Regions from separate parts of the Homo sapiens genome. Here regions 1 and 3 are each linked to region 2. Evidence: fine-mapped expression QTL. A gene starts in region 2. Each other region holds a variant in brackets. All regions are shown on one strand. Distances are between the middles of the regions.

The links. PIP is the estimated chance that this variant, and not a neighbour inherited with it, causes the effect.
Region 1: its variant is fine-mapped to the expression of TREML1 in whole blood (INTERVAL, PIP 0.96).
Region 3: its variant is fine-mapped to the expression of TREML1 in whole blood (TOPMed, PIP above 0.99).

What each region holds. Positions count from the first base shown.
Region 1 is chr6:40,999,600-41,009,586 of GRCh38, reverse strand. All of the region lies in intron 1 of LOC101929555 (a long non-coding RNA gene), which reads left to right. Among named protein-coding and RNA genes, the nearest start is that of UNC5CL, 35 kb to the left of the region's middle. The variant AC/C (reference allele first, on the strand shown) is at 5,399.
Region 2 is chr6:41,148,943-41,158,644 of GRCh38, reverse strand. TREML1 (triggering receptor expressed on myeloid cells like 1) reads left to right here and starts at 4,298. Exons shown (of 6, transcript NM_178174.4): 1 at 4,298-4,399; 2 at 4,555-4,887; 3 at 7,261-7,363; 4 at 7,738-7,826; 5 at 8,332-8,384; 6 at 8,727-9,308. The coding sequence starts at 4,357. The coding sequence ends at 9,041. TREM2 (triggering receptor expressed on myeloid cells 2) reads left to right here. Exons shown (of 5, transcript NM_018965.4): 5 at 1-137.
Region 3 is chr6:41,044,400-41,054,386 of GRCh38, reverse strand. APOBEC2 (apolipoprotein B mRNA editing enzyme catalytic subunit 2) reads right to left here and starts at 1,185. Exons shown (of 3, transcript NM_006789.4): 1 at 909-1,185. The coding sequence starts at 1,039. The variant C/T (reference allele first, on the strand shown) is at 5,689.

The DNA of each region.
Region 1 (9,987 bases), 150 kb after region 2:
GCCAGGCACCACTTAGGGTTCCTTAGGCCTGGAATCTGGAAAAAACCAGAAACTCCAGTGCAAGGTATTCATCTACTAGCTGTTGTGGCTGAGTGGGTTTCTGGAAGAATAGATAGCCTTCTCCCCTTGGGCATCTCGGGGACCAGGGGTTGAGAAGAGGGATTTGGCTGCAAGTAGGTTATTCAACTGCTGTGGACTGAACTGTGTCTACCCAAAATCCAAATGTTGAAACCCCAATGTAGCTGTATCTGGAGATAGACTTTTGGAGGTATTTAGGGTTAGATGAGGTCATGAGGGTAGGGCCCCCATGACAGGATTAATGTCCTTTAAGAAGAGACGTTGGAGCATTCTCCTGAGCGCACTCTCTTTCTTCCTGTCTCTTGTTCTCCCTCTTTTTCTTACTTTTTCTCCATGTGCACACACCAGGGAAAGCCCACATGAGCACACGCTAGGAAGATGCTTTCTACAAGCCAGGGAGAGAGCATTCAACAGAAACCAAATTGGCCAGCACCTCGATGTTGGAAAACTGTGAGAAAGAAATTTGTCTGTTGTTTTATTCCATCATGGGATTTTGTTATGGCAGCTCAAGCTGACCAAGACATTAACCATCTCCCTTGACTGGGATTGAAGGTTGTCCCTGGATGTGGGACTTTCAATGCTAAAACAAGGAAAGTCCTGAGAAAACTGGGATGAGCTGGTCATCCTAGCTATGAGTGCCACTACCCCACAGTCTGCTGAATTGTGGGGGGCATGCCTCAGACTTTTCTGCCTCTGCTTTCTCATCCCCAACATCCCACTTCATCATCTGCAGAAAGGCATGTTCTTCACATGTTCAACAGCTGAGGTCTGTCTAGAAGAGCTCAGGGTTCTGACACCTCCTTGATGGCAGCGCAGTGGAAGACTCACTTCTCCCTGCAGAAGGGAGGTTCTGATCCCTGCGGAGAGATGTCTGGTAACAGAACACTTGAGGTGGTGGGGGTGAGGGGACAGCAGGGCTTTTCCAGGGAGGCCAAAGTCTGAGAGACCTTGCTTCCAAATCCAGAGACCATCCCTTACTGGCAGCATAGCCCTGGGCAAGTCACTCTTGATCCTGGGTTGCACAACTCCAGAGATTGCCATTCATACAGAAGACAATGCAGATCATGATACATTTTAGGCTTGTTCAACATGATGGAATGAAATTACTTTATCTCAGAGTCCATTTGCTCAGCTTCATCAAAAGAAGATAAGATTGACTTCACAGGGCTGCAGAGAGAATTCAACAAGATCATCTTAGTAGGCGCCTCATCAATATTGGCTCTTGCTTTCCTTCTCCTCCTTAAGTCCTATGTAGGCAGTCTAGCACCATGGCTAGAGGTGTGGGCTTTGGTCCGAGACTGCTGAGGTTCCAGCTGTGTGATGCTGGGGACACATGGTGTGAAGTGACAATGACAGTATGACCCACCCCATAAGGCTAGGCTGTTGATTTTATGAGATAACACAGATTCAGTGCGGCCACAGCACCTACACCTAGCAAGGGTCCAGTGTGAGGTGTCATGACTCTGTTCTTTGTAAAGAACAGAGTCCTTCCCACTCTCTTTGCTTCTTTGACCTTCAGCTTCTGCTTTTTTTTTTTTTTTTGGACAAAGTAAAACCCTTTGCCCATGTTTGATATGGGCTTTTCCTCCTCCCCCCTGAGGGTGACAGTGAGAGAGGCACAGTGTGAGTGAGCCCACCTCGGCTCACCTGGCACTCATTTATTGAGGGCGTGCCATGCAAGGTCCCTTGCTGGAGGCCTTATGAACAAGGGAGGAGGAAGAGAGGCCTGAGGTTTTCAGAGGCAGCCTGAAGGGGCAGAATGAGGGTTATCTCAGAGGGGCCTCTGAGAAGGGAGAGGCCTGGCAGGAGGAAGCCAGAAGGACCTAAAAGCAGTCAGGGTTCCTATGCTAAGCAGACACTTCTATGAAGACTCTTTACTCTCTCCTCCTTAGCCTGGGCTACTGACTCAGGGCTGCAAGGGCCTGCTGGAGACTCAGATGCCCCTGTGACCTTTAAGAGACTTATTTTCAGGGTCCTTGGGGGCTGAGGCAGGGTCTGAGGGCCTGGACATCATCATGAATCAGGTAGGCCAGTAGTTCTCAACCCTGGATGCACAGTAAACACTTCTGGAGAAATGCTATAAAAGAAACTTGGGCTGACCCCTAGAGATTTTGACTTAAATGGTTTGAGGTGAAGCCAGAGCATTCTCCTACTTCAATTTTTAATTTCAAAAAGTTTCAAATCTATGAATGAGTTGAAAGAAGAGTACGATGAACACCTGGAACGTTTCACTTACATTAGCCATGTCTCTCTCTCTCTATCTATGCCTATGCCTATCTATCTATCATCTATCTATCTATCTATCTATCTATCTATCTATCTATCTATCTATCTATTTATCTATGTTTCTTTCTTTTTTCTTTTTTTTTTTTTTTCTTGAGATGGAATTTTGCTCTTGTTGCTCAGGCTGGAGTGCAATGGCGTGATCTCGGCTCACTGCATCCTCTGCCTCCTAGGTTCAAATGATTCTCCTGCCTCAGCTTCCTGAGTAGCTGGGGTTACAGGCCTCAGCTTCCTGAGTAGCTGGGGTTACAGGCATGTGCTACCATGCTGGGCTAATTTTTGTATTTTTAGTACAGACAGGGTTTTGCCAGACAGGGTTTTGCCATGTTGGCCAGGCTGGTCTCAAACTCCTGACCTTAGGTGATCTGCCCGCCTCGGCCTCCCAAAATGCTGGGATTACAGGCATGAGCCACCACACCTAGCATATATATATTTCTAAAAAATCTGAATCATTTAAGTTATAGACATCATAATACTTTCTCTTAAACACTACAGCACATCTCTTCTAAAGATACTCTCCTTCACAATACCATATCACATTCAAGAAATGTAATATTGATATAGCACTATTTCATATACTATCCACATCCAAATATCCTCCATTGTCCCCACAATGTCCTTTGTAGTTCCCTCCTTGATTCAAGGATCATGCATTGCATGTGTCTTTATTATCCTTGAGTCTAGAATAGATCATTTTTTAAAATTCTTCTTGACTTTCTTTTTTCTTTTCTTTTTTCTTTCTTTCTTTTTTTTTTTTTTTTTGAGACAGGGTCTCACTCTGTTGCCCAGGCTGGAGTGCAGTGGCATGATCTCGGCTCATTGCAGCCTCCTCCTCCCTGTTCAAGCGATTCTCCTGCCTCAGCCTTCCGTGTAGCAGGGACCACAGACGTGCGCCACCTCCTGGCTAATTTTTGTATTTTTAGTAGAGACGGAGTTTCACTTCACTATGTCAGGCTGGTCTTGAATTCCTTGACCTCAAGTGATCCACCCGCCTTGGCCTCCCAAAGTGCTGAAATTACAGGCGTGAGCCACTGTGCTCGGTCCTTCCTGAGATTTTTGAAGAATCCGTGCCATTTCTATTGTAGAGAAATTGGCTGCCATTTCATGTCAGTTGGTCCCGTTATTAGATGCTGAGTTTGATCATTTGGTTAAGTGGTGTCCACCACTGTTCTCCATTGCACCCTTGCCCCTTTTTACTTACTAAGTAATCTGAAGGGGTTATATTTGAACTGCATGAATATCTCACCAACCTTTTATTCAATGGTAACAGAATACACCGATGATTCTTAGCCGAGTAACTCACTACGTTGTAAAATGGTAATTGTCTAATTCTATCATTCTACTTCATTAACAGGCATTCTTTCATGAAGAAGAGTTTCCCCACCCTTTTGAATATCACCATGAACTGGGGAACTTAAAAAAAATCCATGTGTCATAATTAATTACAAATATTAAAACTCAAATTGTCCAAAATTTGCCTGGTGGGAGCCCTTTCAGTTTGGCTCCCGTGCTCCTTTGACATGTCACCATTAGAATTTGAGCACTTTCTTGATTTTTAGCGCAACCTGACATCCTAGGCTTACCCTGTACTGTCTCTGCTCCAGAATCGGATCAGTCATTTCTCCCAAGGCTCCTGGCTCCTTTCAATGGAGAACACTATTAAAAAACCAAATTCTGGGTGCTTGGTGCACTCATTCCATTGGAGCATTGTTATTTCTAGGCTCTTTCAGTGGATAGAGCTAGCAAATACTTTTTCAAAAAAAGAAATCTTGTATTTACTTTGATACTTCCAATTCAAATCCAACACCCCAGGGTCTTCCTTCCCTTCCCACAATCCCTATTCATGTGTTCTTTCTCTCACAGTGAGAACTTGGTTCTCAAAATGCCAACATATTCATTAACTTTCTCTATTCTACAACACACACAAATCATTTCAGAGTTACTGCACCAGTTATACTACTAAGAACAAACCTACTCAGTCAGGTTTAAGGCATCTTTGTGGTGTTTATTCTCTTTAGAATATATTCCATTAAGGGTGTATAGTCAGGGTACTGTGTCCCAAATTCTTTGAATTAGAATTTTTCTATATGATTTGATACAGAATTAGGTTTCATTTGCTTTTGTTAAAACTCATCTTTAGGTTTAGTTTTTTTTCGCTCTTGGTAATTTAATTTTGTTTCTAAACATGTAAAAACATTTAAATGATTGAAAAATCAAACATATATAAGACGGTATACTAGAAGATGTCTCCCTCCGATCCCTAGCCCTTTTGCTACATTTCTACATTTCTATTCACACCCTGCAGATAACTATTTTCGTTAGATTCTCATTTACTCTTCCTGGTATTGTTGTTGTTTTAAAATAGCATTGATCCAGCTGAAGAGGAAAAATGGAAATTTAGCTAAAGAAACTAAGTGAATCTCTCTTATAGCTAGATTAGAAAAAAATAGTGCAAGAATGGAAGGGTAAGTTGTAGTAAGAAATTAGGGACGCAAGAGGCTTAGAAGCCAGGGAACCAGGGCATCTTCTGGGCTTGAGAGTCTCAAAAATTTGATGACCCTAAAGGCAATTGTTGGTGGCTAACCTTGCAGAAAAATGTTACTTCCTGAGGATGAGGCAGGATGGTCCTTCCCTTAAAGTGATGGAAAGGGGTGATTTCATGAGGCCTGCCCTCAGGAATAAAAGCCAAGAGAATTCAAAGTATGGGCCAGGGACTATAATTAAGAACTTTTAGTCTCTTGCCGGGCGCGGTCGCTCACGCCTGTAATCCCAGCACTTTGGGAGGCTGAGGTGGGTGGATCAGGAGGTCAGGAGTTCGAGACCAGCCTGGCCAACATAGTGAAACCTGGTCTCTACTAAAAATACAAAAATTAGCCGGGCATGGTGGCATGCTCCTGTAGTCCCAGCTACTTGGGAGGCTGAGGCAGGAGAATCGCTTGAACTTGGGGGGCGGAGGTTGCAGTGAGCCGAGATCATGCCACTGCACTCCAGCCTGGGCAACAGAGCGAGACTCCGTCTCAAAAAAAAAAAAAAAAAA[AC/C]TTTTAGTCAGGCTCTTAAGTAGAGAGGTGGTTGGGAATAAAGGAGTGACAGCTGTCAGCAGGAGAAGAAGCAGCCTGGGTCCGAAAACAGTTGGCTTAGGATTCAGAAGTGGCCATGAAGGTTCACATTTTGTAAAACAGCCTTCAGCGTCCCCTAAGTGACAGAGGGCAAGGGCTGAATCCAGCAGTGTGGCCCCACCTGTAAGAAGTGGGGTAGGAAAATCTACTGTCTCAAATGAGCTAGGGGTTCTGAACTCTCTGAGGAACCCCATTGTTCTCTGTTCTACATGCAAAAATTAAGGGAAAGATTTGCGTGGAGAAAATGATTTAACATTCGCCGAAGGTAAAGTGAGGGCTGTGCTGCCTAACTATGATTTTACCTCCTTCTTTTCCAGTAAGGAAAGTGGTCTTCCAATTGAAAAGGGTAGAACAAACATTGCAAAGAGGGGATTGAAGTCAAGGACAGGCATTGAGGCAGTAAAGCCGGTAGCAGCAGCTGTGATAAACTCAGGGCTCTGACCCTGATGAATTATGTCGTGCAGCCTGGGAGGGACTTGACATGAGATTTCAGAGTCACTGTCATCAATCTTTGATAAATTATAGGGGAGGGATTTGCGCTCAATGACATGAGATGGGCATATGAGCTCTTGACATTCAAAAAGGGGAAAGGAATGAATTCTGGAAGTTACAGAGCAGTGTGCTGGGATGTTCTCACCAGTGGATGTTGGGAAGGTGCACACCTTCAGCAAAACTGGTTTTGAGTTCCAGCTCTGCTTCTGGACCAGGGCAGGGCCTGGGCAGATATTTAGAGGTTAAGTTTCTACATTCAGAACCAAGGTGGTCTGGAGGGGGTCCAACCAGGGGGACAACGGACACGTTTGGGGTCTTCTCTTCATTCCTTCTCTAGTAATTCCCGATTTACCACCATGGACTTCCGGCAGCCATGGTTTCCTGTTTTAGGTTGGTTTCCAGAAGCAGACCCTGAGGCAAAGGTTTGTGTGAAAGTGTTAGGAAGTGTGTTCCCAGGGAAAATCCAGAGGTCGTAGGGAACTGGAAGAAAGAAGGGAAAGAAGTGAGTATGAAGCAAAGTGTCCCCGAGGGTAACTTTGGAAGAGTCCCACAGGGGATGTCTGTTAATGGTGTAAGTCACACTTCAGAGTTGTTTCATCATGGAGAAGGCTGGAGAATGTTTAATCCTTATGTTGTCAATCATATTGATTGAGGGTTGTCTTAGGGGATGTGAATTCCCAGGGCTGAGGCTGCCCGAGAACAGTCCTCTGACACAGAGACTCAGGTGCCTGCTGACTCAGGTGGAAGCACACCAGGAGGGGATCAAATGCCCTGAGGGGACATCAGGAGGGCACCGACAGCCTTCACAGCACTGCCTGACCCCTTGCAAACTAGCTGAGACTGTCTCTGGAAAGCACCCCGTCCAAGGTTAGCCCACTGGCTTTCCTCTCCTAGGAGCTTGGAGAAGGGTCTGAGAACTGCAGGATGGAGCCTGGGCTCATTGGGCAGCCATGTCCCCCCACCATTTGGGCTCTAGGGACATTCGTCATGTCTGACTGCTTAGCACTTTTTGAGCATCATTCTAATCCTTGTTAGAGTTCCTGACATATGGGAACTGCTGCTCCAAGGCAGAATCCAGAGAACTGAGATTTTTAGTATTTTTTGCAGCTGGTGCCAGTCATGTGACCCAGGCTCCACCGGTGAGGAGAACCTACATTAGACTTTGATTTGGAAACACATAGCTCTGGGTGGTGTATTCATTTTACTCATGCAGCTGGCAACTCAGGCTTCTTATTTTTGGGATCCAGTATCAAATTTCCAGTGCAGAGGTGGCAGCCACACAATTGCAGTAGAGTTGAGTTCCCGGCATCCAGTGTCAGCCTACTTCCTTTTGGGGAGCGATATTAAGAGTAACAGGTCTAAGGAATGCTGTAGGCAGAGGCTCCTTGGTCAGAGAGATGTTTGACCAAGTAGCTTAGCCAGAAGACAGATGGCAGAAATGTGGTGGGCTAATCGTTGGTTCAACCATATCAGAAGAGAAAGGGGATTAGTGCATTGATATTGGCTGGAAGAAGGTCTCTAGTGGCATACCTTAGGGGTCTGTCTTAGCCCTGTTCCATTCAACATTGTTATCAATGACTTGGATGAAGACATGGGAGGTATGGTCCTCAACACTATGGATAACACAAAGTTGGCAAACATGTTGGGTTACAGAATCAGTTTTCAAGATGATCTTAATATCCTGGAAAACTAAGAAAAAGATAAAACCCAATAGAATACCTTTTAGTTGTGCATTGAGTTAAAAAGAAAAGCAACTGTATAAGGACAGACTTAATAAGAGTGGGCGGAAAGAAAACTTTGGAAGGAGAGGTAGTGTTCCTCTTTACATATTTATATCCCACATATTCCACAAAGGATTGTAGGGGGCTTATAAAAATACATGAAATAGGAAAGAGTTAAAACACAGTTGAGGGAATTGGGGCAAAGTTAAAAGTAGAAAAATACTAAAAGCACAGATAAGGCAAAGTCCCAGATATGCATATGGCCCAGTCCTGCAGTGGTTACAAAAGGTGCCCTGAGCTCCCCTGTGGCTGAAGCAAAGAGGGAAACTTGATCTAATTTGAGATGTGCATAACAAATCTCATAAAAGATAAAACATAAAAGATAAACAAACCATTTATCCAGAAGAAGCACTGCTTTTCTTTACAGTGAAACCTGAAAGAACGTTCTCTTCTGGGTCCCTATGAAAAGGACACCTTGTGAAGCAGAGGATAAAGCCCTCAAAAGGTAGGATATCAAAACAAATTCAGTGAAAGCAATTCTACTTGGAGCCAGAAAAATTTTATCCAAACACCAGTTCTGGTTTGAGGTTGAATGTTGTGTTTCTCTCTAACTCAATGTTTCTAGACTTTTCTTCAGCATTGTTCCCCTAAGGAAAAAAAATTCCCTTCCTTTCATTTTTTCCCTATCCTAAACACTATTTTAAATAATAACATAAAATAATATAAATTTATAGAGAGATAAGATATGTATTGATAAATAAATGTATAGTAAACATAAATTAAGAAATAATTACATACTATTTTGTTGGGCAGGATTAAACTTTGGAGGGTCATAAAACTTTGAAACATCTAAGATTTTTCACACCCCCACCCCAGCCAATTTCCACCCCCTTGGGAGCACTTGGGAGCATTCACACCCTGGAGAATGCATACTCTAATGAGATGGAGAATGGAATGTCTTTGGGCAGTTCTCCCCAATCATAGTTACTCTCTAGACAGCACTTCTCTCTCTGGTGAATTTCCCTCCAATTGTAATTGGTTTTTTGACCGATGTGACTCCATGGAGTACAATCAGGAGGTGGCTTTATTTTTCTCCAACTATTGTTTTCTAGCTCTCTGTTGCATTTCTCTTCCTTATTTCTGGACCATCCCTTGACGTTGTTTCAGGCACAGCCCACAGCTTTTTGGTCACCTTCAGTTATAATAACTAGTTTTATTTTGGCTGCCTCACCTCACTTTCAAGCATTGAAAGGTCGTGGCCGGGCTAAATCAAAACTTCAATCTCATACCCAGCACTATGCTTCTCCCCTCCCCATCCCTCAGCTCAAGCCTGAGCTAGGTCTGCCTTGGAGAGGTGGCCTAGTCTGCTTTTTACCACCTTCCCCCACACCTTGCCTCTAGTTCCTGGGCTTCCCTTTTAGGAGGAAGTCTTATCAGACCTAGAGTAGGGACACATTCCGTAGTGGTCACGTGGCCCAGATGAGAGGGATGCCCACCTCATGCCCTCTCTGTACTTGCCACTGCAAGCCAGCCCAGCCAGCTTCCTACATTCCTTTACAATTCTCTGGACAAAAAGCAGGTGCCAGCCTCCCTGTTCCAGAACCTGGGGGCAAGGGCAAGCCCCAAGCTCCTGTCTGGGGAGCACCATGTCAGCCTACTGGTTTCTGTGGCTCAGCCAGCACCCAGCTGGGTATTGGACTCACTCTCTCCCTCTCGAAGGCCTCCTGACCTCCCTGCTGTTCTCTTGGATCTTTGTGCCTCACTTGAGGATGGGAGAAACATCTTCCTCCTGCCTTCATGGGGAAAGGGAGGGATGGAGAAACACCCTAGCCTTTCCTACTAGGCTGACAACTCCCTACTCTTAGAAATGCGCCTATTTCAATGGACTCGCAAATCTTCTAGTATTCTCTTGGGGTGGTGGAGGTGGGATGGGAGGATTGGATCACTCATCTTTGAGAAAATCCTGCAGGTATCCTCTGATCACTTTCTTTTTAGACTGCGGGGGCACTTTTACTTATTGCTATCCACTTTAGGGCTTTTAGCAGAAGTTCTGAGATTGCAGGGAAAATCCCATTTGATGTCCCATTAAGTGTTCAAACTTCCTCTTTGACTTGGCTGCCTTGCCGGGGATCTGCTTGCCAAGGGCTCTCTAACCTTGACTCAGCACAGCTCCCTCCAGTGGTCTTAGGACCCAGATGTGCAGCTGAGGTCACAGCCTTGCTCCAGGCCCTGCCTTTCCACAGTGTGCTGGGAAGCAGATCTTCTCACCTCCTCTGTACTGTGGAGGCTGACATCTT
Region 2 (9,702 bases):
GAACACTGCTTCTCCTGGACCCTGGAAGCAGGGACTGGTTGAGGGAGTGGGGAGGTGGTAAGAACACCTGACAACTTCTGAATATTGGACATTTTAAACACTTACAAATAAATCCAAGACTGTCATATTTAGCTGGATAGTTTTGGGCATCATGAAAGTCTCATTTTCTTCCACAGGGGTAAGAAAATGAATTTGGATGAGAAAAAGACAAGAGATTTTGCTCCTTGAGGCCCAGGACCATAGGATACCACATCCCTCCATTCTCACAGGCTCAATCAGCCAGTCAGTTTTTTTCTTCTCTCTCTTCCCTTCCCTAGATCTGATCGCCAAGTTCTGCCTCCTCCTCTGGGGTTTCTCTAGCACCCAGTCTTCCTCTGCTCTCCTCCCCAGCATTCACCCTCTCCATCAGCTTCCCCTGGATTATGGAACCTCCCTGCCCCAAGGCCCCCTCCAGCTGACTCAGTTCTTCCCCACCAAGGTCAACTCCTGGCAGACTCATCCATTCATCTCCTTAGAACTCTGTTTTCATCATATCATTTCCCCTTCGGAGAAATGACAAGGGCTTGATAATGTACAGCATTATCAAACTGGGAACTGATGGTTCAAGCCCCTCATCATATAGAAGGGAAACTGAGGCTCAACAAGGGAAAGGAACTTACCCAAAATCCCCACCCAAAATCCCCAGTAGAGCCTGGAAATCCAAATTTCACTTGGCATTCAAGGTGCTCTTTCCTCTGACTCACTCCTACTTATTTGTTCAACAAGTATTAGTTTGAGCAACCAGTCTGTGGCGAGTACTATTCTGAACACTGGAAATACAACAGTGGACAAAAGAGGCAAGAGTTGTGCCCACACAGAGCTCACTTTAGTGGAAGGAGAGGAGACAGACAATGCACACAGTAAGTAAGTCAATCTGATTCCCTGTTAGAGGCACAACGTGCTGAGGAAAAAATTAAAATCAAGCAGGGTTAGGAGTATGGGTGTGCAGGAGGGACAGGGGATGATACCATCTTAAATGCAGAAGCCAGAAGGTGCCATTTGAGGAACACTTGAAGAAGGCCAGGAAGTGAGCCATGAGGACATCACGGGGAGGAGTATTCAGGGCCGAGCGAACAGCCAAGGCAGCACATGCAACCTCAACTCTCTCTTCAACACACACACCACCCTGGCCAAGACTCATGGGGAAACTGGGAGGAGACTCCCCTGAGGGTGAGCTGCAGGGGAAAGAAGAAGTGAGTCGGCCATATTCCTGGGCTCTCTGGACTGGGCCCCAGAGAAGTGGATGCCCAGGATCCCCTGTGGCCATAGCTCACATGGCTGCCTTGCCACCTAACCTGCGCTTGGGCACCTAAGGTTTAAATCACTAGGATGGAGCCCCTGGCATGGCCCTCATGTTCCAGCCTCACTTCAACATGTCACTCCCCTGGTCCCAGCTGTGCCCCAACCCTGCCTTGTCCACTCCCAATGTAAGCTGCTCCACTGGCTCCCTGTCCTGGAGCCTTGGGATTCTGGTCCAACCTGTGTTCCCATGGCCTCCCTGGCTCAGGGGCACATTAAACTTCCTCATTGTGTCCTGGGGCATTGCCCCCTTCCTATAGATCTAGGGCACAGGTAGCACCAAGAATGAGCCGAGCCCAAACTGCGCCTTCTCCACCTACCTCCTGCCCCAGTTGTGGGCACCAGTGCCGATGAAATGGCCTGGGAGGCTCCCCGCGGCCTGCCTCGTGCTCCAGGGCAGTGGCTGCCATCAGCCCCAGCCCAGAATCAGGCTTTCCTCCTCATGGGAGCTTGGCCTTTTCTCTTTCCTTCTCTGCCATGTCAGAGACATTCCTCTCTGGACTGGAATCACCACAGGCTCTCCTGCCTCAGACTCTCTGCGAGCACTCTGGACTGAAGGGAAGTGAGGCCATTTGGCCTCAAATTTCAACTCTGCCTCCTATTAAGACACCTTAGGCAAGCTCCTCAATCCCTCTAAAACCCAGTGCCCTCGCTTGTAGAAACAAATAAACAAAACAACCACTTCCCCTACTTTGCAAGGTTTTTGTGAGGTTGAAAGAAATAACATTCGTGGCCAGACATGGTGGCTCACGCCTGTAATCCCAGCACCTTGGGAGGCTGAGTGGGGTGGATTACTTGAGGCCAGGAATTCAAGACCAGCCTGGCCAACATGGCAAAACCCTGTCTCTACTAAAAAAAAAAGAAAGACAAAAATTAGTCAGGCATGTGGTGCATGCCTATAGTCCCAGCTACTTGGGAGGCTGAGGCAGAGAATTGCTTGAATCTAGGAGGCCAAGGTTGCAGTGAGCCAAGATTGCGCCACTGCACTCCCGCCTGGGTGACAGAGTGAGACTGTCTCAAAAGAAAAAAAAAAAAGAAAGAAATAACATTGTGAAGGTCCTTGGCCAGGTGACTGGCACATAGTAGGTCCTCAATAAACACTGGTTTCCTTCATCTAACGCCCAGCAACATGATGTCTCCATGAAGGCCAGGATCTTGCCTGGTCACCTCTGTCTCAGCACCCAGCAGTGGACCATATTCAACACTTAGTCCAGTGTTGAATACAGTTCACCTCTTCACACAACACGCCTGGGTGGCTTGTTAGTATGAAAATAACTTTCTTATAAGGAAATCAAAGAAAGCCTGATATGCATTGGCAAGACAGACATAAGCACATCACCAACTAGGGTGACCCGTCCTGGTTTGTTCAGGACTTTTTCAGTTTTTGCACAGAAAGTCCCAAGAAACCCCTCAATCCCAAGCAAAAACGGGAAGTTGGTCACCCAATCTCCCACTTCCACAAGGCCCAGCTTAACACATTAACTGATTTTCTCATGCTCCTGCTCCCAGTTTCCCATTCCTCACTCCCTTGTTCCCAAAGGAAGGAAGGAAAAAGAGGAAAAAAGGTGAGACGGGAGGAGATGGGAGTGAGGGAGAATGGCCTTTCCAGGCCCTTTTCTAGGTCTTACCCTCCAGATTAGGGCAATACGCCCCTCCCACCCATCCCCAGCTGCTGTAGTCTCTCTGACCACTGGTGCTTCCCCTGTGTCTGAGGTCAGATAGTTTATTAGGTTTATTACTCACACTTTGTCCCAGTTCCTCGAGCCCAATTCCACAGGGCAACATGAATGAGAGCCAGGTGCCTCCTGTGCAGGCAGTGAGTTTGGATCACAGGAGAGAAACCCCCAAATTAGGAGACTTGGAGTTTATATAGAGAATCTGGTATATCTTCCTCTCTGGAAGAGAGAGAGAGAGAGAGAGAGAGAGAGAGAAACGTTTACTCTGGAATGTAAATCTCCGGTGAAGAAGAGGAAGAATGCGAGCAAATCTCTGGACGTTGCACTCAAGGTATGTTTGCTATTCAATCACCCTTCAGCAAAACTTGGCCAATACCCTTTGCACAGAAGGACTAGAACATGCAGCAATGTGAAAATATTTGTGAAGAATTGTCTTCCAACAGAGAAGATAGAGCATTCATGAAACAAAAATAGTATGCCAGAATTTAAAAATGCTCAAAGAATAAGGAATATCTTGTCTTGTAAATTAAAAATATTAAAAAATAACATTTTAAAAGACAAAAATAGAAGGATGGAAGAAAATGAGGAAATCTCCTTGAAGGCAGAACAAAAGAGACAAAAAGATGGAAAATGAGATAGAAAAGATATGAAAATGAGATGAACACACGACATTCAATAACCAACTAGTTAAGGAATTGCAGAAAAATGGAAGGGGAGAAGAAAATGGACATGTAATTATCAAAGTAAGAATTTGTTTCCCAGAACTGAAGAATGTGGATCCAGATGGAAGGGTTCTATAGTGTCCAGGACAATAAATGAAGAAAGACCCAGTCCAGGGCACAGGATCAAGGTGAAACTTCCTGTTTGAGGTTGTACTGCATACAACCTCCTAAAAGCTTGGGTGGTCGTGGGGCACTCCCAAAGAATTGAGAGCAAGAATGGCATTGAGTGAGGTGCAGGGCACTCTACCTTCCTCCTTCATAGCTGTGCACCCTCAGATTCTGTATTAGGAAGATCCTGAAGATCATCTTTCCTCTTCCTCTCCTGTCCTCCAATTGTCACAATCCTCCCATCTCACCCCTTAGCCGGGCCCCAGCCCCTGCAGGCTTCTAGCTTTCTTCGGGTCTTCTCATCCTGTCTTGCCCACCCTTACCCTCAGGGCAGTTCCTGAGCACTGAGCCAACCAGGGCTTGGAAGAACTCCCTTTCCCCACCCCTGGAGGTGCCCATCATTTCCTTTCTCCCACCCCAAGTGACTTTCTGAGGCAGATGTTTCCTGCCCTCAGGCGAATGCTGCATCAGTGCCCAGGCAAGCCCAGGAGTTGACATTTCTCTGCCCAGCCATGGGCCTCACCCTGCTCTTGCTGCTGCTCCTGGGACTAGAAGGTAAGGTTCAGGAGGAGCTGCAGCTCTGGGCCCCATATGCTCAGCCCCATGTCCAGGAGTAACGTGTTATTGTGAATGCCACACCCATACCAGCAGCTGGGCTGGGAGATGCTCCCAGCTCCTGCCCAAAATTCCCACCTCCTTTCCTTCCCCAGGTCAGGGCATAGTTGGCAGCCTCCCTGAGGTGCTGCAGGCACCCGTGGGAAGCTCCATTCTGGTGCAGTGCCACTACAGGCTCCAGGATGTCAAAGCTCAGAAGGTGTGGTGCCGGTTCTTGCCGGAGGGGTGCCAGCCCCTGGTGTCCTCAGCTGTGGATCGCAGAGCTCCAGCGGGCAGGCGTACGTTTCTCACAGACCTGGGTGGGGGCCTGCTGCAGGTGGAAATGGTTACCCTGCAGGAAGAGGATGCTGGCGAGTATGGCTGCATGGTGGATGGGGCCAGGGGGCCCCAGATTTTGCACAGAGTCTCTCTGAACATACTGCCCCCAGGTGAGTTATCCTAGGCCAGCTACCACCCCTTAGACCTACCCTCCCCACCCCCGCCTATTGCCAGGGCTCATGGGTTCTTGAGGAGTGGGGGCCCCTGGGGAGGAGGCATTCCAAGGAGATATCCTCTTGACAGCTCTGCAGGGAGCGGAAACCAAACTGGGTGGGAAGTCTGAGATAAATCAGCTGAAAACCATCCCTTTCCCCCTTCCACACTACTGCGCTTCCCCACAGGAAGGCATGTCCTTCCCACTCCAGGGACTTGGCCTCTTCTTCCAGCATTTTCAACATACTTGATGCTAACTTATTTTTTAATTAGAAATATTTTAAACAATGTTGAATCTGAGTGTATAAAACCAGAATTAATTTTTGTAGCTTCCAGTGTTTTATTCCTGTAATAGCGGGCTTGATGGCTTAAGAATTATGGAATTCATACCTTAATTAATTTTATAAGTCTTCACAGGCCATCTAGTATGTCTCACCTACAAGTAGGTACATTCAGTGCCTGAACAACTTCAACTCCTTTCGTTTTAAAAATGGAAAAATGTCATTAATATTTTAAGCCAATATTCTTGACCCTATTTTCAGTATTAAAGACACTGTTTTTGCAGGTTTCATTCCCACAGCCCATAACTTTTCTAGTATATAAGCATTTGTTAAAAGAAAATTTTAAAATATTAAAAACTTGGGTTTTTTTTTTTAAGAAAGATAGGATGTTCTAAAAATAAAAAATGGTCAGCTACCTGAAGCACAGACAGCCACTCCTTTTCTTTTATGGATACTGGCCATTTTTTCACCTTTAGGTCTTCCTTTTCTCATATTTTATGCCCAACCCCCAAATAATAAAATTAAGTAGAGCATTTTCCCTTCCCTTGTTTTTTGTTTTGTTTGAGACAGGGTCTCACTCTGTTGCTCAAGCTGGAGTGCAGTGGCACTATCGGCTCACTGCAACCTTGGCCTCTCGGGTTCAAGTGATTCTTGTGTCTCAGCCTCCCAAGTAACTGGGACTACAGGTGCCCACCACCATGCCCAGCTAATTTTTGTATTTTTAGTAGAGACGGGGTTTTATCATGTTGGCCAGGCTGGTCTTGAACTCCTGACCTCAAGTGATCTGCCCGCCTTGGCCTCCCAAAGTGCTGGGATTGCAGGTATAAGCCACCACCCCTGGCCCCTTCCCTTGTTTTTTTTCCCTCTAAATAAGAGGGTAGACTATGTTGTCATTAGAATCCTTCTCATCTCAAGCCTGTGGTTATTGTTTTATATTATAAATATATTGTTAATCCTTGTCATCCTTTGCCCTCCTCATTCCTTGACACTTTGAGTTACTAAATTCAGGTTCTAACTCACTAAAAGGCAAATTGTGACAAGATGAGACTCCCTGGGAGGAGCGTCAGGGAGGCAGGGACCTGGGCCCCTGACCTGCTGCCATGGGGCAGGTGCTGTGGAGGATGATGTTCAGGCAGGCAGGTGGCGCGTAGCATCCAGAGATGATGTGGCTTGCGGCTCAGGTGAGCATTTAGCTTCAGAGAAGGTGGTCAAAGGCAGCCTAATAGGCACCAGGAGGGCAGGACATGTGCCACAGCAACCCCAGTTCCTGGTGTGGCATAGGATGGGGAGTAGGAATGGTGAATCTCTCAAGAACAAGGCAAGGCCCCATTCCAGTCGGTCTGAAAGGACTGGCCAGGTTCCTAAGACAAGTCTCCAGGCCCAGAGAAACCAACCCCAAGTCCTGCAGCCAGAAGTCAAGCACATCATATGGGTGACAGAAGCCTTGTCCTCAAACTGAGTCTCAGGATCCCAGCAAGGCTCTCAGCAAGGGTCAGTTGGTTTGTGTTGCATCACATGAGGGCCCACCCAGATTTTCTTCAGTCCTGAGGGCAGAGCTTGGGCTAGGGTTGCAGGGTCACAGGTATGTGAGGAAGCCCCATTTAAGACCCATGAGATCCAGGAGCTATGTCACCATTGAGGATGAGAACTGCAGAAACCTATTCGGGTGGGAAGGAGAGGTGGGTACAGATCATCCAGTAGGTGTTTTTACACAGACTTAACAGCTTGATAAGGCCAGAGGGGTGAGGGGTAGAGCAGGTAAAAGGGAAGAAATGCAGCAGGAAGATGGGGGGAGCTGGTGGTAGAGGGAAAAGTGGGTGTAGTCACAACCAGGTAAAGACATAAAGAGCCAGTGCCATTTCCTGATCTGTGGAGTGACAGGCCCCTAAAGAACATCCCAGCCTCCCCTTTCTGTGTTTCTTCCTGGGGTCCTCTCCTTCCTTGGCTCCACTCCTCCAGTCCCTCAGACCTCAACAGGATATTGAAGCCTGCCCATATGGGCATGCACTCATTAAATGTTTCCTTCTGACTCCATTCCTGGCCTGACAGAGGAAGAAGAAGAGACCCATAAGATTGGCAGTCTGGCTGAGAACGCATTCTCAGACCCTGCAGGCAGTGCCAACCCTTTGGAACCCAGCCAGGATGAGAAGAGGTACTGACAGGATTGGATTTGGGAGGCCAGGAGAAGGGTGGTGGTGGAGACAATGACTTGTTTAGAGCTCCAAACTAAATCGAAGGGGAAAACCTATGATTCTTCCCACCTCTGGGGAACTTCTGGACAGACAGACAGACAGATACATACTTCTCTGTCCTGGGTCAGCAATGGTGCCTTCATGCTGGTGATTCTTCAGCCAGGATACCTTAATGAGTCCCTCTTCTGCCCTACCTCAGTCAGCTCCCCTCATTCTATTTCATCTCCCTCTCCCAATCAAGAATGTAACCCTTCTGTCACTGCTCCAGGGCTCCTGGCCAGCAGCTCCCCACAGGCTTCAGGTCTAAGCCTGCCTATCCCTTTCTGTTCCTCAGCATCCCCTTGATCTGGGGTGCTGTGCTCCTGGTAGGTCTGCTGGTGGCAGCGGTGGTGCTGTTTGCTGTGATGGCCAAGAGGAAACAAGGTAGGTGGCTATCTTCCTATCTCAGCCTGGCCCTACCATTCCAGTATCAACCAGTTGTGCAGATGAGGCCAGGAGTCTAGGTCCAATCCCCCTACAAATGGATTTGCCTGGGCTTAAGTCTCAAGGCCCCCATATCCTAGAATTCCCAGGGCTGAGGGATGGAGGGGAGGGAAGGAGATTCAATGGGAGCAGTCTGCAGAAAGACAGGAATTAGAAAGGGTAGGGCAATGCAATGGGAGGAAAGGCATTGGAGAAGGTGGGGAAAGGGTCTCGGGAGGTAGGCTGAGCGCTGAGGTGGGTTGAAGGGAGCTCTGGAAGCAGTAAGTGGGTGGGGAGATTTACGGCAGGCTGGGGAGATGGAAGGGGTAAAGGTTTGGTGGTGGGAGTGGGGAAGGTGAGTCTGCAGTAGTGAAGAGGTTTCAGAGGCTTCTGAAGGAAGGGAGTGAGGGAAGGGCTCTGAGCCAGCCCCGGAAGCAGACTATGCTGCTGTTGTCTGTCCTGCCAGGGAACAGGCTTGGTGTCTGTGGCCGATTCCTGAGCAGCAGAGTTTCAGGCATGGTAAGAGGCCTCTGCAGGCCCACAGCCAAATTCCCCAGACTTTCCATTCATCTCACTCACTGAGAGGTCCTAGGATGATGGGGTGGAGAAAGGACTGGGACCTAGTTGGGGTCCAAACCCTCTTCCTAAATGCTGTAAACTTGACACTAATGGTCTCCCTTGGCATCCCACCCTCCCAGATTTGGGGAGAAACTTGGGGCTTGAAAATCTTCACAATGAAGCCCTCTTGCCCACTGATATACTCAGGATTCAAGAGATAGATCTAGTGTGGTCCTGGGCTTCCCACCAAAGGGAGTTCTGGGGCAGAGGGAGGCATTCCTGACTTGCCTGCTTTTGTTACAGAATCCCTCCTCAGTGGTCCACCACGTCAGTGACTCTGGACCGGCTGCTGAATTGCCTTTGGATGTACCACACATTAGGCTTGACTCACCACCTTCATTTGACAATACCACCTACACCAGCCTACCTCTTGATTCCCCATCAGGAAAACCTTCACTCCCAGCTCCATCCTCATTGCCCCCTCTACCTCCTAAGGTCCTGGTCTGCTCCAAGCCTGTGACATATGCCACAGTAATCTTCCCGGGAGGGAACAAGGGTGGAGGGACCTCGTGTGGGCCAGCCCAGAATCCACCTAACAATCAGACTCCATCCAGCTAAGCTGCTCATCACACTTTAAACTCATGAGGACCATCCCTAGGGGTTCTGTGCATCCATCCAGCCAGCTCATGCCCTAGGATCCTTAGGATATCTGAGCAACCAGGGACTTTAAGATCTAATCCAATGTCCTAACTTTACTAGGGAAAGTGACGCTCAGACATGACTGAGATGTCTTGGGGAAGACCTCCCTGCACCCAACTCCCCCACTGGTTCTTCTACCATTACACACTGGGCTAAATAAACCCTAATAATGATGTGCAAACTCTTAATGGCTGAATGGGAAAGGAAACTGCCCAAGTTTGACTAATTGCTTGGCCTGTGAATGGAAAAGACTCTGGTCTAAATTTTGTGCTGTATGATCTCCTGTCTCTCGTCAGTGGGGAAATGGCTTCCTTCCCTGGTCAGAACACTACAATGCAGTTTGATTCAAGGGACGCTGAAAAGTCTTCTTCAGAAGTATTTTTTGCTTATCTCATGATGCCTCCAAGTATAGATTCATTTGCTTGAGTCAAGGAAGCTCTTCTCCTTTCTGCTCTGCACCTTGTGAATATGTGACATGATGCGAAAGCATATGATAGGGCGGGGGTGGTGTTAGATTAATGATAAGTTAAAAGAGACCCAGGACAAATGGTGTGTTAGAAATGGCACTGGAAAGAAATAG
Region 3 (9,987 bases), 100 kb after region 2:
CTGTGGTCATTCCTGGAGACCCCATGAAGGGAACGTTTGGTTCAAGGAGGAAATATGGCCTCATAGATTCTCTTTTTATTCTTTGCTCAGGATTTAGAAGGGTCTTCCACTACAGGAATAGAAAGGGAAGAGGAAGAAGACTACTTAGTTTTATTCCTGGAGATGGCATAATCTGGATAAGACAGAGGTACCCTGCACACAGCCCCCTCCTTGCAGTCTGTAGACCCTTTTCTTTGGGTCCCAGTTCCTCCAGGCAATGCCTGAGCATGTTGGAACAGCTCCTGTGTCCATAAGCTCCTGGGCTGCGTTATCTGCATGTAATTTCTCTGTTTCTCTGTGGGACAGCCCCTGAGGAGACTCAAAAGATTTAATAAGAAAAAAGCTGCTTCTGAGTCTTGGGAAAGGATGGATCTATCTTTCCTGTCTTGGGAGCATCTACTCCAGGAAGAAGCTCTAAAGAAAGGGCTAGAGGCCTATGGCTAGCGGAGAGACCCACTCAGGAACAGAGAAGTTGAGGGGAAGGGTTGCTTTGAACGGAGCCACATATAGATGTGCCAGTCTCATCCTCTGTCCTCGCCAAACTCCCTGGGACTAAGCTTCTACCCAGAGAGGCAGGTGGCCATCCCAATACCAGGAGGCCTGAAGGGTGGTTTTATTCTCTGGGCTTTTGCCTCCAAGGAGCTCCTCCTACCTCTCCCTGATTAGAGAGCCCAAGGTGTCACCCTGAGAAGCCAAGAGAATTTGCTGCTGGGTCCCCTACCACCCCTGCCGGGCCCACTGGTGCACTCTCACTGCTGCAGGGTTGTAGCTGTCCCTGACGCCTAATATAACCATCCTGAATTTCCACAGCCTAACCCAAGGCTGCACTCTTCTAGGGAGCAGAACCCTGACCCACATCTGAGGCTTACCCTGTGACAATCTCAAAGGGCGGCAGCTCAATCAGCTCTTTCAGCTTCTCAGGGTCGTCCAGGTTCTCCAGATCCTCCCCATTCTGGGAGGCAGCCTCAGTGGCCACAGCAGCCTCTTCCTTCTGGGCCATGGAGGGGCTGTGGCTCAGGAGTCACTGAGGGAGAGGAGAGAGGCAGGCAGGTCTGGGCCAGGCCCTGGCGGCAGAGTCCCAAGCAGCTGTCAGCAGCTAAATCTGGCTGGGGATGACGGGAAAAGGACCCAGCAGGCCAGGCTTCGTGCTTTCCCCACTTAGCCACAGGCTTTATAGCCAAGGCCTCCTGCCCCTCCCCCAGGCTCTCTCCCTCTATCTTTTTTTAATTGAGTGACAGCGGGTGCTGGGGTGGGGGAATGGAAAATCTGGCCATTAGTATCCCCTATTTATCAGTAGGCAAAGACAGGAACCTGGCAGGTGGGTATGGCTTGGCCTGCTCTCTTCTCCCTCTCCCTCTCAGCTCACCTTATGTTCTCCCCTTTGTTTCCCACCCAAATTCCCTAGCTCCACTGGGGGAGAGTGTGGAAGGGGCCCCAGGGCAGGCATCCTGAGATTTAGGAGGGTGGCCTTCTGAGATTTAAACAGGAGGAGATGTGTGTTGAAAGGGGCTGACTGCAAAAAGACCCAGGCCATTTGCTTTGGGGGAACGTGGGTTCAGGAAAGGAGGGGTCCTGGCAGAGGTGGGATCAAAACTGACAATTTGGGGAGTAAGTGTGTGAGTTATGACTCAAAAGCGGTGGGTGCTGATTTGCCTGTTACAAAGCCATAATGTAATGTCAAATCGATCAGGAGCCTCCCTGAGTAACAATAGCTGCCATTTACTTAGCTCAGAGATTTTGAAACAGGCCAGGCAGTGGGTTTAGGGGTTTAAATGAAATCAGATGCATGCTTGCCACAGCCATGGGAGGCGATGTGTATTATCCCAAGTTACAGGTAAACTGAGTCACAGAAGTGTGCAGAGCCGGGATTAAAATGCAGGCTTTTGTACTTCAGGCCAAATATTCAACCTCCATGCTATGTGCCCTCACAGTCAGTCTTTTATTCTTCTTAACAAATATTTATTGAGTATCTACTCTATGCCAGGTGCTGTTTCAGGTACTGGGAATATGGCAAAAGAACAAAGCAAATGAAAATCCCTGCTGTGATGATTTGTGGAGCTTGAGGAACTGAACAACAAATAAGGTAAGTAAAATACATGGTCTATTTTGTGATGACAAGTGCCAAGGAGAAAAGACAGGAAATGGAAACAGGAAGTGCTAAGAGGTGGGGTTACGTACTTATAGGATGGCCAGGGTGAAGGACTTTGAAAAGGAGACAATTGAAGAAGACGTGAAGAAGGCAAGGGAACTAATCATTTGGTTGTCTAAGAGGAAAGCGTTCCAAGGAAGGGAACAACGTGAGCAAAGGCTCTGAGAAGGGAGCATTCCTGGGGTGTTTGAGGAACTAGCGAGGACATACATCTGGGTGACTGAAGAGTTCTAAGAGATTAAGCCAGAGAGATAACAAGGGTAAAAGGGACTGGGGCCTTATGGGCTGTCATAAGTACCTTGCTTTTTCTCAGACTGAGGTGGGAAGCCATTGTCTCTGAACAGGTGAGACAGGTGGTCTGAGCACTTGGGAAGAGCAGAGGCAGGGGACCAGTGAGAAGCCTACTGAGGCCAGAGAGAGATGATGGGGGCCCATAGAAAAGACCCTGAGCCGGAACAGCAGCAGAGGATGGCTAGATGATTTTTGCAGCTCTCATGATGGGTACTTAGCAGAGGCAAAAGTCTTCGTGTTTGGAGCAGTGCAAACACTCTAGGCCATTCTCAGGGAAGCAGAAGGAAGGGGTCAGGGTCACTTGTAGGTTGAAAATGAGGAACCTAAGAACACTGGGGAACGGATCTGAAAACAGCTCCAAATGGGTTTGGCTGGTGGGGATGAGAGGGTAGGGCACCCTTTGGAGGGTCTGACTAAAGAAGAGGAGTCAAGATGGTTTGGAAGATTTAGGGCTCACTCCTCCAGAGAGTCTGAGCAGCAGAGTGCTCTGTTAGTGTGATGCCCAGCATTTTGGTTTGCCAGTCATGGTTTCTTCCTGTTGTCCAGACATAATTACTAATAGCACCCCTTTACTCCCAAAGGTGTCCCGCTGTGGACAATAAATTATATGGTCCCCTACCTTTTGGATTTACTACTAAAAGGATTATTATTATTTATTTTTTGAGATGGAGTCTCACTCTGTCACCAGACTGGAGTGCAGTGGCACGATCTTGGCTCACTGCAACCTCCGCCTCCCGAGTTCAACCGATTCTCCTGCCTCAGCCTCCAAAGTAGCTGGGACTACTGGCATGTGCCACCAGGCCCAGCTAATTTTTGTAATTTTAGTAGAGACAGGGTTTCACCATGTGGCCAGGATGGTCTCCATCTCCTGACCTCGTGATCCGCCTGCCTTGGCCTCCCAAAATGCTGGGTGGCATGAGCCACCGCGCCCAGCCACTGAAAGCATTTTTATCTGGATCTTATTTTTTCAAACATTTTTCGGGGGGAATAAAGCACTGAGTAGAGATAATAGTGCCTGTGTCCACAATAAAAAGACAGTGGCAGCTGATAAACTGCAAAGAATGTTGTTATCACACAAACATACCACGTTTAAATGTAAAGAGTTTACTTCATTTTCTTGTTCAGTCAACATTTATCAGAGGTTCCTATGTTCCAGGTGCGGTGGTAAATACCAAGAGTACAGAGATAAATAAGGTGCTGGCTCACCAGGGGATCCCAGCTTTTATCATATTTGGGGCATTAATCAAGCATTCAAGCATGCATTATCTCATTTAGTCCTTACACCAGTCTCACATGGGTGTGAATTATGGGCCTCATTTTGCAAGTTAGGGACTTGTGGCTGAGAAAGGTGAAGTGATTTGTATAAGATCACACGGGCTTTGAGTTCAGGTCTTCAGAGCCCAAGTTCAAGTTTAGCCTATTCCCAGGGCTGCGCACAGCTACCTTTGATGAAACATCTCTGAAGCATTATAAATGTGCATCCCTCTCACACTTCCCAGGCCCAGCTAGGGTGATATGCTTGGATCAACGGAGGAAGAGTAAAATGTCTTGGGGAGGAAAGCAAGGAGGATGGATCCTTTCAGTTCACTGTTCCCCTGCAAGAAAGACTTCCTCCCTGAGGACAGGGCCTTCTATTTTGGCTGTCATGTATAACCCTGGATTAGGAGGCAAAAAATATTCTACGTTCATATCCCCATCTTAGCCCGATTCACTGTGTGATCTTGGACAAATCACTTGACATCTCTGAGCCTCCGTTTTCCCATCTGTGACACAGGCTGTGCTATTGATTTCTATTTCCAAATGGTCAAAGGGCAGAAAATAGGGCGCCGAGTGGGCTTGTGAAGACCACAGGTGAATGGCGTGTCGAGAATTTCCTGCCTCTCCCAACAGCTCAGAGTGAATGGTGCCCAGGTGGTCTCAGGCTGGTCCTTAAGAGTTGACCCCTTTCTTCTGTCTTACTTATAGACAGTTTTCCCTTCGACCTTTGGGAGAGGGTCCTGGGTCTGCCCCCAGACTGATGACTGACAGCTTCCTTTTTCACTGCTCCTTTGAGCCTTCCCCGTCTCCCAGCCTGCCATCCCTGGAGGCCCTCTGATCTGCTCTAGCTATTTATGGCACCTCCTGGGGGCCTGAATTCCTGGCTGGTCTCTGGCTCTTCTTTCCAAGTCAGACCAGTTTACTCTGCTCACCCCAGAGTGCAGCAACTAATCTGGGGGATCAGATTCCAGGAGCTTGACTCCTCTCCCTACAGCTGCCTCTATACTCTTCAGGGCTGGCACACCCCACACCCAGTGTTAACCCTATTGGGTAAGGTTCTATCAGTAGTCCCCCTCCTGCACAGGAGGATACTGGGCAGTAAGGTATTTCATTCAAGGTCACATGTGGAGTCAGTGGGGTGCTGGGATTTGAACCCATATCTGTCAGCTCCCAAGTTCCATGCTTCTCCTACTGTGTCATATTCCCTGGAATTTAGTAACAAGGAGAGCTGACATTAACACAGTCCTTGCTGCTGGCCTGACATTACTCTAAAATATTATGTAGGTTAACTCATTTATTCCTCACAAGGATGTTTGGGGTAGGTACTATTATTATCCTAATTTTTCTGGTGAGGAAATTGAGACCAGAGAGGTTAAGTGACTTGCCCAAGGTGATGCAGCTAGAGAGGGCAGAGCCATGTGCTTCCAGAGTCATGTTTTACCTCCTTCACCATTCAGTCTCAACTGCTGCCAGCACCCATGAGGCCCAGCTCTGGGAGAAGGGAAGGACAGAGACCAGTGGGAGTTGAAGAAGCTGAGAAGGAGTTCTTGCAGGAAAAACAGACTCTAGGGAGTAATTGGTACATGAGGGGTGTGTGTGTGTGTGTATCTGTGTTTTGGGGGTACAGGTAAAGAGACACCAGACAGCTAGTATCTGGGGATGGAAACCAAAATTGGAATCCTCCCAGCCTGTCTCTGCAGGCCCTTGCCCCCTTCTGTTGGGATGGCAGTGGCTGAAAGGAGCTGGGTTAGGCCTGGGATACGCTGCAGCATGCCTCTCCCTGTCCTGTTTCCCACGGTCATTTCAGAAAACATTCAGAGATTCTAGGAGGTGGCTGAGAAGGAGAGGACAGGGTCAGGCATGGTTGTTCCTTGGATCTTGGCTGGATGTGGAGCTGCCCTCATTGGGAAGGGAGCAGAGAGGCCAGGAGCAGGGCTGGTGGAAAATAGAAG[C/T]CTCACCAGAGGAAGGTTTAAATTCTCACTCCCTGAAAGAGGATACCTCAGGGGTGCATTGATGGAGTCGGTGCTTTATGTGCAGGGACAGCTGGGACCCCAACAGTACGTTGCCCCAGAGACACAGCCCAGGCCTGCCTGCCCCTCTGGTCACTACTGAGACAAGGTACACAAACAACAGGGCTCGGGCACCAGACACCCCTCTGGAGGGCGGGAGGCTGCTTCCTCTAGCAACTGCTCTGTTGATATAAACGTGAGGTGTCCAGGGCTTTGAGCAGCCTTGGCCAATGAAGAGGGGAGGGGGCCAAGGGTCTCCCAGAGTCTGAGGCTGGGATTGGAGAAGGCACCAGAATCACAGGGCAGGACAGAGTTTACAGTCTTCTGTACAGGACACAATGCTTGCTTTGCCATGTGGGACACACCACCCTGGGTAAAATGGTGACTTTAGTCCTGGTCACCATGGTTTCCATTCCAGTGGCTACTCCTGGCACTGCCCAGCTCCCGTGGCTGGCACTTTCAGTCTTTAAAGAAAGTGATCTGATAAGGATCATGTACATTAAGGTGACTAATAGTATTCCTCTTTGAAGGGGTGTTTGCAAGGCCAAAGAACCTACTGGGAAGAGGTGACAAACTACAATCAACTTGAGAGGGGAATTTCAGCCCTTAAAATGAGAAATGTGTTAGAGTAGGTGCAAGTGGACGCTAGGGGGATTTTTCTGGTACTTGTCTTAGCGGATAATCTCTGTGTGGGCTGGGCGACCTGGGAAAGGGACAAATGAGGCCCTGATGAACATGATCAAGGCCCTGGTGTGACCAGGGATGGCTTCCCCTGGCTTCCATACCAGAAGAAGAGCCTAAATGTATGGAGTGTCCTCAACATTTGGGGGTGGGGGGAGAAGGAGTCTGGGAGGCAAGTAAATGTTTTTTTGGGCTCTACTTGAGGATACAAGAGGAAGGTCGAGATCTGAGGGAGTTCTCAGCAAAGTTGGGCTTTGGACTGAGTACCTTGTAAGCTGCTAATGAGAATCAGCAGTAAAATCCTTAAAACAAAAGGATTGTGTGCTTGTTTTCTGGAACTACAAGAAAGGGGACCTCTGGGAAGACTCTGAAACTGGGCTTGGGGTACAGGGGAGCCCCAAGCGACAGAGCAGATAGTGGCCATTCACAAAAGAAAAGAGACTTTGGAGCCCTGGCCCAGGACTGACAACATTCAGGGGCCTCTAGGCATCTCCTGCGCAGCAGCTCTACCTGCCTGTAGGTAGGAGGGGCCAGAGATGTGCAGAATAAATACATCCTACACTCTGCCCTGTTCCTAGCCCAGCTGACCAATCTTTGACCACTAGACATACACCTACCACTCTGCCATCTCACCTAGCCTCTCTATGTTTCCATTCTGCAGAAATTGGCAAAGTGAGGAAGAGTGAAGGTTTAGAAGAGGAAAGGATGAACTAGGATACAATAGAATGAGATATGCCACCTCCTGGGTCTGCTGTTTTACCTAGTGCCTCTCTAGCCGCTGGACGGGAGATCTGCAGAGCCTTATGATCTTGTCTGTCTCCGACTCAACCAAATCAGAGGCAAATGGAAAAATACTGCCTCAGAACAAAAATGTGCACATAATTTGAATGGTGGAAGCTTGGGATACACTTGCAAAGAGAAGAGGCAGCTCCAAGTCTATTTAGGCACAGCTCTTAAGTAACAAGAGAGGAGGGGCAAAGGCAGGTGTCCACTAGGCTGGGCTCTGAACTGGGAAGTGGGGTAAGGGGAAAGATAAGAGCCCCAGGGAGGTTGGAGACTGTGGGATTAGGGGCTCCCTTCACCCAGGAACCAAGGAGCTGGGGCAGAGGAGGATTTTAAGGACAACTTTGGAGTTAGAGGATAAGAGTTTGGAGTTGGGATTCTGCCCTTTCATGCTGAGTTTCTGCACATGGCCAAAAATCTCTTTAGCTTGGCTCATGCTGTATCAGGCGGTCGTGCTAGCCCAGGGCTTGGGACACTGCCCAAATTAAGCTTTCTTCTAGGGCTAAGTCCTAAGCTAGAGGCATGGGTTAGTGGCTCCAGCTTGCCTTGGGGAGGTCAAAGTAATACCCTAGGCATCATACATCTTCTTGGAGGTTCCACCTAACTTCTAGAATTAGCTGGTAATGAATAAAATTGGTAGCAAATATTACAATGCATATATTATTATGAGATGATAATAATGATAATGGAAGATAATGTCTGGGGTGCCCACTTGCCAAGATCACACAATGGTGGTAGAGCTGGGTAAGAACCCATGTATTTTGGGTTCCGAGCCTATCCTCTGTCCATCAGTATTTATAGCTAGAAGTTGCACCAGGTTACCAGTTAATAGATAACAGAGTCAATATCCAACCCCAGGTTGGTCTGACTCCATGGCCAGAACTGCAAATCACCATACCCTATTGCTCTCACTCCCCAAGATGACCTGATTTCATGGGTCTGGAGTCCCAACAAGTGTCTCAGGAGGTCTCTGGGGCACACTTTGAGAAGCAGTAAGAAGCAATACCCTGCAGCAGCACATCTCAGTTTGGCTGCACATTAGAACCAGGAGTTTCCAAAATGATTAAAGCCTTTCCCTTCTTTTTTCAGTTGTTCCAGAGTAGGGGTGGGGGTAGGGGTGGCGGCAGGTGCTGGTCAGCATTTGTTTTTAAAGTACAACAATGTGTTCATTTATTCGTTCAATTAATCAACAAATAAAAACGTACAAGCACCTACTCTGTGCTCTGCCCTGTCCTGGGGCTGGAGATACAAAGGTGGGTGGGACACTGTGTGTGTCCTCCTGGGGTGCCTGTGACCTGACCCACTGGGCTGAGCATGCCCTTGGTGGAGGAGGGGAGGCTGCAGACTCCCTCTCTTGGGTGAGCTCTGGAAAGAGCCACTCCTCTTCTCAAATTATGCTGCCTTACTGGCTTCTCACCTGAGAGCATACAGTTTGTTTCAGCTCTAAAACTCAGCTCACAAAACCTCAGAGTGTCAAGGCTAAACGGGCCCTGATAAACGATCTGTGCCCAAAGCACTCAAACTAGCTAGCAGCTGACAGAAGTGCTCAGGAGGTTTTAAATCTGAAGATGCCAAGAGCCCACCCGCAACGTTCTCATTTATGGGTCCTGAGTGCGGTCTGAGGAACATGCATTTTTTTAAATAGCTCCAAACAGCTGTGGTACAGCCTTGGCTGCACCTGAGGAGGTCTTGGGAAGTTTTAAAAATGTTGATGCCCAGGCCTCCTTCCTGGAGAGGCTGATGAGGATTTTTAAACAATTCTGGTGATCCCCATCATGCAGCAGGTGGAGACCCCCTACTGCAAGGTGTCTGGGCCTTCCAGCTGACCTTGTTAAAGATTTGAGGAGGCTTACTCAAGGGCGGTCACTCCTTGCCACCATCAGGGCTTTGAAACAAGGACAGAAGAAAATCAGAGAAGGGAGGAGTCAAAAATTAAAAAGCCACTAAGAAGGTTTAGAAAAAGAGAAGCAAGATAGAAGGCTGAACAAGAAGCTCCTATGGATTCACCTGTCAGCACCCTGAGGCTTAATCTCTTTTTTTCAATCTTCTTTGCCTTATTCTAATAGTAATTAATTGATGTAAAATAAGGAAAGCATAGGAATGTATGAAAGCAAAAAAGAAGGTCTATAATCTTATTTATCAGAGATGTATAACATATATATCATACAACCATAGTATATGTTATAACTAGATATTGCATCATAAATCTGATATATAAATTAATGTATAATATATACTATATAACCTTAACATGTATAATTAGTATCCCCCCCTTTTTTTTTGAGATGGAGTCTCACTCTGTCACCCAGGCTGGAGTGCAGTGGCATGATCTCGGCTCACTGCAACCTCCTCTTCCCCGGGTTCAAGTGATTCTCCTGCCTCAGCTTCCTGAGTAGCTAGGACTACAGGTACTCACCACTGCACCCAGCTAATGTTTGTATTTTTGGAGGCAGGGTTTCACCATGTTGGCCAGGCTGGTCTCGAACTCCTGACCTCATGATCCACCCGCCTTGGCCTCCCAAAGTGCTGGGATTACAGGTGTGAGCCACCACTCCTGGCCCCCTAGTACCCTTTTTTAAGGTGTATTTTTCTGTTTTGGCTTTTTTGTCACTTTTAAAAAGCCTTTTGTTTTTCAGGTAATTAAACATCTGAGTGCTAAATCTTTATGCCAGGTGGGGAGGCATGTGAATGGAGGCGAGCTGGTGTGCCCACCCCTCCCCCATGGGCCTTCACACATTCATTCACGCGCACACACTCACACAGAGGTCCAGAAGCTTC